2 separate regions of the Homo sapiens genome follow, and region 1 is linked to region 2. The links come from fine-mapping of genetic effects on gene expression. Tissue or cell type: whole blood. Region 2 holds a variant in brackets; the other region holds the start of a gene. All regions are shown on one strand. Distances are from middle to middle.

Region 1 (4,182 bases), 22 kb after region 2:
TAGTTTTAAGAGTTTGGATAAACTAAAGGAAGCATGGAGATGAACGACAGGCGGAGATAAAAGGAAAGGACAAACAACCTCTTTGTGCCTGTTTTGTCATCCATAAAGTGGGGATCATAATAGAACCTTCCAGGATTACAGGCTCATGCCCATCTCTACTAAAAATACAAAAATTAGCCAGGTACGTGGTGGCGCACACCTGTAGTCCCAGCTACTTGGGAGGCTGAGGCAGGAGAATTGCTTGAACACAGGAGGCGGAGGTTGCAGTTAGCTGAGATCGTGACACTGCACTCCAGCCTGGGTGACAGAGGGAGACTCTGTCTCAATAAAAAAAAAAAAAAAAATTCACGTATCTCCTGATACACCAGGATCCTGCAGTCGGCCAAGGACTGTGAAGAACAGAAAAGAAACCCAAGACTCCATCCCATCTTTAAGAAGTCTTCAGTAGCACCAGAGACAAAAAGGACGGCCATGCGGGCGGATCACGAGGTCAGGAGATCGAGACCATCCTGGCTAACACGGTGAAGCCCCGTCTCTACTAAAAATACAAAAAAGTAGCCGGGCGTGGTGGCAGGCGCTTGTAATCCCAGCTACTCCAGAGGCTGAGGGAGGAGAATGGCGTGAACCCGGGAGGCGGAGCTTGCAGTGAGCTGAGATGGCACCACTGCACTCCAGCCTGGGCAACAGAACGAGACTCTGTCTCAAAAAAAAAAAAACAAAAAGGATGGCCATGGGTGCAACAGGGGCCCTGACTGCGGGTTGTACTGAACGGCAAACATATCGCAGTTCTTGCTTTTAGGGAATAAAGTAGGGAGAGGAAGAGGAGGTAGAGTCTCCAGCAGTGACTTCAACAGCTCGCTGTCTTCACTATCTAGGAAATAGGTGTAAAAACCTGCTCAAAACGAAATAGATTTGTGAAAAAAGGAACTTCAGTGTGAAGAAAATGTCAAGATCAAGGCACCTCGGATATTCAGTCATTGGTCTCATTGGCGATTAGAAATCCTCGTTTGAGGTCGGGCGCAATGGTTCACCCCGTAATCCCAGCAATTTGGGAGGCCGAGGCGGGCGGCTCACTTGAGGTCAGGGGTTCGACACAAGCCTAGCCAACATGGTGAAACCACCTCTCTACTAAAAATACAAAAATTAGCCGGGCGTGGTGGCAGGCGCCTGTAATCCCAGCTACTCGGGAGGCTGAGGCAGGAGAATCACTTGAACCTGGGAGGCTGAGGTTGCAGTGAGCTGAGATCGCACCACCGCATTCCAGCCTAGGCAACAGAGCGAGACTGTCTCGCTCTCAAAAAACAAGAAAGAAAAGAAAAAAAAAGAAAAAGAAATCCCCGTTTGACAGGAAGGTGGCTCATGTCACTAGAGGGAAGGAACTGGTTTATGGGCCTGGATGCCCCCAGTTGAACCGGGGGACATCTTCCTCCTCTGTCCCTCCCGCCTCGCCTTTCGGTGGACACACAGTCCTGTGCCAGACAGCAAACGTCCCAGCAGGGCTCGCAGCGCCCCCTCGGGGCAGAGAGATGCACGCGGGCGACTGTCGCAGTCACCTCGTGGCCACTGCACCAAACGCTCCTCCGAAGCTTCCCTCAGAGACCCTCCCTCAACCGCGAGGCAGTCCTCCCCTCTGCCCTCTGTCCACAACAAAACTGCTCCCCGCCTCTCACTTGAGGGCACCGGGGCCAGCCCCCGAGACGAGAGGTCGGCCGCAGCCCTCCTCCACGGGGCTCACGACCCGGGGGCCTCACGACCCGGGGGCCCCATGCTGCCACCCTTACCCCGGGGCCCCCAACCTCACCCGCCGCCGCCACCCTCGGTCCCGGCCACAGCGGGCGGCTCTGCAGAAGAGCTACGCTCCGTCCAGTCGGACCCCGGACCCTGGCCGGGCATCTCCGCGGCGCCGAGACCGCGAGCCGTGTGCGGGAGCAGCTGTCCCAGCATCCCTCCCCCGACAGCACGCGTGCGTCAGGCTGCTGGTATTCCGGAGAGGCGGCTCGGATGCTGGCTTCTCGCCCCTCCGAAGCCGTTCGGACACTGCCCGAACAGCTTCGGGAGAGCGGGGCGGGCAGATCCGCGACCCCGGAGTTACGGTGGGGGAGGGGCAGGAGCGCTGCGGTCGCTGAGCGTTTGCACGTTTGCACCTCTCTGTGGAAGCAGTGCGTCACAGGAGGGAAATATACATGCTCCCCAAAACAAGAGGTGCCTTCCACTTCAGTATTCCAGATCCTCAGCACATTTGCAAATCGCGAGGGTCACCATACAGGTCAAACGTCTGCACGCAAACCACGGACCGAAGCACGTGGCGCAAGGATGCGGAGCTTTATCTGTTGTCCGTTATTACTCAGGTATCCAAGCTTAGACAGCATCCCAACGGCCGATTTCCATCAACTACTTTTGCGCACGCGCAAATCCTCTCCCTCGCCCCTCCCCTTTTTTCTCAGGACGCGTTTCTCACGGGATTTGGCCCGCGGGCTGCCCCGTAGTAGGAGGTGTGGTAGAACTGGAGGCGTAGAAAGAATGTGGATTGCGATTGGTTCGCACTTCACTTTCCCGGAGCTCAGTGGGCGTCGCGCGAAGGCTAAGGGAGTGTGGCGGGCGGCTCCGGGAGCCAACATGCCTCGGTATGCGCAGCTGGTCATGGGCCCCGCGGGCAGCGGGAAGGTGAGGATCTGCGGGGACAAGGAGAGAAAAGTAGGAGTTCGTGGAAGGCGGGAGATTGGGTCCTGAGGGAGTGAGCCGGCGGGTGTGTGTACTGGGAACCCTGAGACCCCACGCAACTCATTTCTGCTGTCTGGCTTCACGTTCTTTTTTGTTGTTGTTTTGAAAGGGAAATAATGGTAGTTGTTAATATTTATTGTATACTTAAGCCCCAGGCAGCAGATGAAACGCCTCGCTTATTTCTACAACAACCCTGTGAGAGAGATCTCATTTTTCTCATTTTACAGAAAACGAGATACAGAAAGGTTAATTAAGTTCTTTGCCCCGCAAAAAAATATAAATCCAGTTTTGTCTCAACTCCAGAATCCGGCCCTGTCTCGCTCCCAGGAGGGTAAAGTGGGGTCTCATTAATTACTGTTTCTCAGAACTTGGGACATGGACTTTTGGTATTTAAGGTGCTTTTAGGTGGTAGGTGGTACATGGACCCCACATTAAGGAGCATCAGATAATGTGTTAGGGAAATTGTTCCCTTTTCATTTCTCTTTCAGTTCTCAACTTCGCATTTAGGAGAAGTTGTGCTCGGTGCTAGTGTGTATCTTCAGCACTTCTTTAATCCCCAGGTCTTTTCAGAGAGCAGTTCTTAGTCTCAGAGCTTTTAATAGGCACCTGTATTTAGCTAAAAATAGAACATTTAAAGATTTTATATAATTTTATGTCTAATTTCACGTTATGTCAAATATAAGTGGTTTTCAGTTTACAGTAGGGATAAAATTTTTTCTTGTAAACAAATATTAAGGGAATGTTAGGAACATTCAAATACAGTGAGAATGGTGAAGATATGGATCAAATAACATATGTGTGGGAAACATAGCCAGGCGTGGTGGCTCACGTCTGTAATCCTATCACTTTGGGAGATGGAGGTGGACGGATCGCCTGAGCCCAGGAGTTTGGGACCAGCCTTGGCAACACGGCGAAACTCTGTCTCTACAAAAAAATGCAAAAATTAGCCAGGCCTGGTGGCAGGTACCTCTAGTCCCAGCTTCTCGGGAAGCTGAAGTGGGAGGATTACCTGAACCCAGGAGGTTGAGGCTGTGGTGAGTGGTGATCGTGCCACTGCACTCCAGCCTGGGTGACAGAGGTACTGTCGCAAAAAAAAAAAAGAAGAAGTGTGGAAACACTAGAGTCTGTGGAGGTGTTGTGTGGCCTCAGTCTTTAACAAACACATTGTTCTAAGCTGTTGACTTATTCTGGGTAAAAACATGTACATGTAACTAAGATACCTATGGCCTTTAACTTACCCAGAGTCTGTAGTCTTTTGGGGAAGACAAATAGATGACCTGTCAATTAAGATACAGTGTGATGTGGCCAGGTGTGGTGGCTTAAGCCTGTAATCCTCGCACTTTGGGAGGCTGAGGCCAGCAGATCACTTGAGCCCAGGAGTTCAGGGTCAGCCTGGGCACCATGGTGAAGCCCTGTCTCTACCAAAAATACAAAAATTAGCTGGGCATGGTGGCGAGAGCC
Region 2 (4,166 bases):
GGAGATATGGCCAGCTTAGCCCTGTTGCAGAGGCAATTTGATGTGGACATTCTTATCTCGGGACACACACACAAATTTGAAGCATTTGAGCATGAAAATAAATTCTACATTAATCCAGGTTCTGCCACTGGGGCATATAATGCCTTGGAAACGTGAGTAGTATAGAATTTGGGAATTTGGGGGCTTTAGTAAAATAATTGCATGTGTGACATTTCGTAAAAGAAATGTGGCTGGGCACAGTGGCTCATGCCTGTAATACCAGCACTTCGGGAGACCAGGGCAGGTTGCTTGAGCCCAGGAGTTTGAGACCAGCCTAGACAATATGGTGAGACCCTGTCTCTACAAAAAAATTTTAAAAATTAGCTGGGTGTGGTGGTGCATGCCTGTGATCCCAGCTACACAGGAGGCTGAGGTGGGATGATCACTTGAGCCTAGGAGGTTGAGACTGCAGTGAGCCACGTTTGAGGCTCTGTACTCCAGCCAGGGTGACAGAAGGAGACTCAATAAATAAATAAATAAATAAATAAATAAATAAATAAATAAATAAAATAAAAATAAATGTGACTTTTTTTTTTTTTGAGACAGAGTCTTGCTCTGTCACCTAGGCTGGAGTGTAGTGTTGCAATCTTGGCTCACTGCAACCTCTGTCTCCCGGGTTCAAGTGATTCTTGTGCCTCAGTCTCCCAAGTAGCCGGGATTATAGGTACCCGCCACCACGCCTGGCTAATTCTTGTATTTTTAGTAGAGATGGGGTTTCACCATGTTAGCCAGGCTGGTATTGAACTCCTGACCTCAGGTGATCCACCCACCTCAGCCTCCCAAAGTGCTGGGATTACAGGCGTAAGCCACTGTGCCCAGCCACATGTGACCATTTAAATAAATCTAGCCATTTTGGCAATCTTTTGGTAACTGTTCATGTGATATGTAACAGATTTCTCTGAATCCAAATAGTCATCTTAAATTGAAATTTATAGTGCTGCTGCTTTGTGCTACAAAACACTGACATTATTTATTTTTTCTTCTAGAAACATTATTCCATCATTTGTGTTGATGGATATCCAGGCTTCTACAGTGGTCACCTATGTGTATCAGCTAATTGGAGATGATGTGAAAGTAGAACGAATCGAATACAAAAAACCTTAAAGCCAGGCCTGTCTTGATGATTTTTGGTTTTTTTTCATTGTCCTGTTGAAATCAAGTAATTAAACATTTAAGAGCCACAAAATTGTATCACTTTTATAATATTTTGCAGTAAAATATAATACCATCTTCTCTGTTAATACATAATTGCTCCAAGCTTCCTGTAAACTATAAGAATATATTTAGTTTACAGTATATGGATTCTATGAAAAAATGTCCACAACACAGTAATTGGTCACTTGTTAAGAAAAATTTATCCTTGTAAGTATCTTCAAAGTTGATATTTGGAACTTTATTCCAAAAGTAGTGCATGTGGAGAAAGAATCTAGACTTTCTTGTATACATTTTTCTCTTCTCCAGTAATAAACAATTACCTTTCATTTATACTTTGATAACCTGTATTTAATTTAAAAAAAAACATAAAAATGAGGAACCAAGTGAAACTACGGATATAAATATTAAAGTGGACGAGATGACCTTTCAGAGCTCTTCTCTTACATTGTGTCATAATGTTGGACTCAGATTTTATTTGCTAAATAATATACCATGCC[G/A]ACATTAACAGTGATTCTTCAAACTGTTGCTATTTCCATTTTTCAAGGTTTAATAAAAGTTTTAAAAATACAAGTTTAGGGGCCGGGCACAGTGGCTCACACCCTAATCCCAACACTTTGGGAGGCTGAGGCAGGTGGATCACCTGAGGTCAGGAGTTCAAGACCAGCCTGGCCAACATGGTGAAACCCTGTCTGTACTAAAAATACAAAATTAGCCAGCATGGTGCTACATGCCTGTATTCCCAGCTACTCGGGAGGCTGAGGCAGTAGAATCACTTGAATCCTGGAGTTGGAGGTTGCAGTGAGCCGAGATCACACCATTGCACTCCAGCCTGGTCAACAAGAGCATAACTCCGTCTCAAAAAAAAACAAAACAAAACAAAAAAAAAACAAATTTAGCAAGGAAGCATACTAGAGTAATATATAACGTAAAGAATCCTCTTGTTAGTGTAACTACTCCCAACCTAATCTAGTCCGAGAGTCCCAAGTTATTTATGTGGTAATTTCATAAGATAGGGAAAATGTGTATTTACATTTTAAAGTTGTATTCAAATAGCAAATATTTATTGATCACCTACTTTGCAAGTCAGAGCATCATCTCTGTCAAATGCTATTCTGTATCTGGATATTTCCAAGCTTCCCTTAGCCCAATCAAAAAAATACTTGTAGGATATTCTTTTTTTTTTGAGACGGAGTCTCGCTCTGTTGCCAGGCTGGAGTGCAGTGGTGTGATCTCGGTTCACTGCAACCTCCGCCTCCCAGGTTCAAGCAATTCTAATTCTCCTGCCTCAATCTCCCAAGTAGCTGGGACTATAGGCACACACCAACATGCCCAGCTAATTTTTGTATTTTCAGTAGAGACGGGGGTTTCACCATGTTGGTCAGGCTGGTCTCGAACTCGTGACCTCATGATCCACCCGCCTCGGCCTCCCAAAGTGCTGGGATTACAGGCATGAGCCACTGCGCCTGGCCCTTGTAGGATATTCTAATATTGCTGTTTTAGGACTTACTATGAACACAGAAAGAAGAAATACGATGCATTTGTCAGATTTAAAGAAAAGTAATTCAATATTGAATGCAAGAAAAGTTTTAATTGTATCTAGCTAGAAGTACAAGTATATGTTACATGTAAATTTTCTTACATAACTATCATTGGTACATGGAACTACATCAGACCAATTACATTGTTTTAAGTTTCTGAACAAACCAAAATTACTTAATGATTTAATAAATAACAATACCATCCTAAACATACAGGACACAACTCACAACCCCTTACCCTCACCTTTGGCACGAATTCAATACACGAGACAAGACTGTCAAGTTAACATCAGATGTTCTCCCTGTTCTTCAATTGACATTGATTGCATAAAATTATTTAGTAAATCTTCTTCCTTTTTTTCTTCACTCATGTGTGATTCAGAATCATCTGAAGAAACTGAAGGAAAAATAAGAATTTACAATTGTCTGTTTTGGAAATAAAGCTCTAAGTACAACTTTCAAAATGACCTGGCTTATTAATAAGCCTGTAGTAAAGACAAATTGCCTGCAATTTTCAAGGCTCTTAGTCACCTCATCCTTCCCCCAAGTTTCTTACTCTTTAAGATACACAATACTGTATTCTAGCCAAGTTACTGTACAGCAAATTCTCTTGTTACTAAGTCCTGTTTTACCATTGATTTTCAAAATCTTTCAGTTGGGGGAAATTAAAGTGGTCAGTTACATCTTCAGAATCTCTGCATTTTCATTTAGTTCCTTCTCATCTCTTCTATTGGGGACCACAGGGACTCCCCCCCCTACAGTTTCCGCTAACTGTACCTTTTGGAACCTGACTTACCCCTTCTCTCCTGCCCTTTCCCTCATTTCTTGGATAGGCATGGTACGATATTTACAGCAAAGCTGGCTAACACTGTCATACAGTGATGGGATATCAATTCAGAAGGCCTAACTTCCCTACTTCAGTTTTTTTTTTTTTTGGAGACTAGAGTGCAGTGGCGCGATCTTGGCTCACTGTAAGCTCCGCCTCCCAGGTTCACGCCATTCTCCTGCCTCAGCCTCCCGAGTAGCTGGGATTACAGGCATGTGCCACCACGCCCGGCTGATTTTGTATTTTTAGTAGAGACAGGGTTTCTCCATGTTGGTCAGGCTGCTCTCGAACTCCTGACCTCAGGTGATCTGCCAGCCTTGGCCTCCCAAAGTGCTGAGATTACAGGCATGAGCCACTGCGCCTGGCCAACTTCCCTACTTCTTACCCACCTCCCTACTTCACTATGCTGATAACTAGGAAACTACTTAACATGATTTAACATTATCAGTTCTGAGGAATACTTCTGATCATTCGGTCTGTCTTCCCTTTTTCATTTTGCAGTATTTTGTTCTTGTGGTAGAAGGATCCTTTATGCTGATCCTTCCAAAGTCTGGATTTGTCTGAGTTGCAGCTGTAAAATTTTGATAATATCACCTGCTTGGCTTGCC

Evidence for each region. PIP is the estimated chance that this variant, and not a neighbour inherited with it, causes the effect.
Region 1: GPN3 starts here. The variant in region 2 is fine-mapped to the expression of GPN3 in whole blood (INTERVAL, PIP above 0.99).

The regions. Positions count from the first base shown.
Region 1 is chr12:110,466,638-110,470,819 of GRCh38, reverse strand. It overlaps GPN3 (GPN-loop GTPase 3), which reads left to right and starts at 2,563. Exons shown (of 8, transcript NM_016301.4): 1 at 2,563-2,664. The coding sequence starts at 2,617. FAM216A (family with sequence similarity 216 member A) reads right to left here and starts at 1,975. Exons shown (of 7, transcript NM_013300.3): 1 at 1,802-1,975. The coding sequence starts at 1,944. LOC124903016 (a long non-coding RNA gene) reads left to right here. Exons shown (of 3, transcript XR_007063459.1): 2 at 4-181; 3 at 369-531. RefSeq lists enhancers at 1,232-1,401, 2,322-2,451 and a silencer at 1,602-1,911.
Region 2 is chr12:110,488,982-110,493,147 of GRCh38, reverse strand. FAM216A (family with sequence similarity 216 member A) reads right to left here. Exons shown (of 7, transcript NM_013300.3): 7 at 2,763-3,129. The coding sequence ends at 3,011. VPS29 (VPS29 retromer complex component) reads left to right here. Exons shown (of 4, transcript NM_016226.5): 3 at 1-152; 4 at 1,026-2,065. The coding sequence ends at 1,143. It overlaps LOC124903016 (a long non-coding RNA gene), which reads left to right and starts at 3,855. Exons shown (of 3, transcript XR_007063459.1): 1 at 3,855-4,166. The variant G/A (reference allele first, on the strand shown) is at 1,692.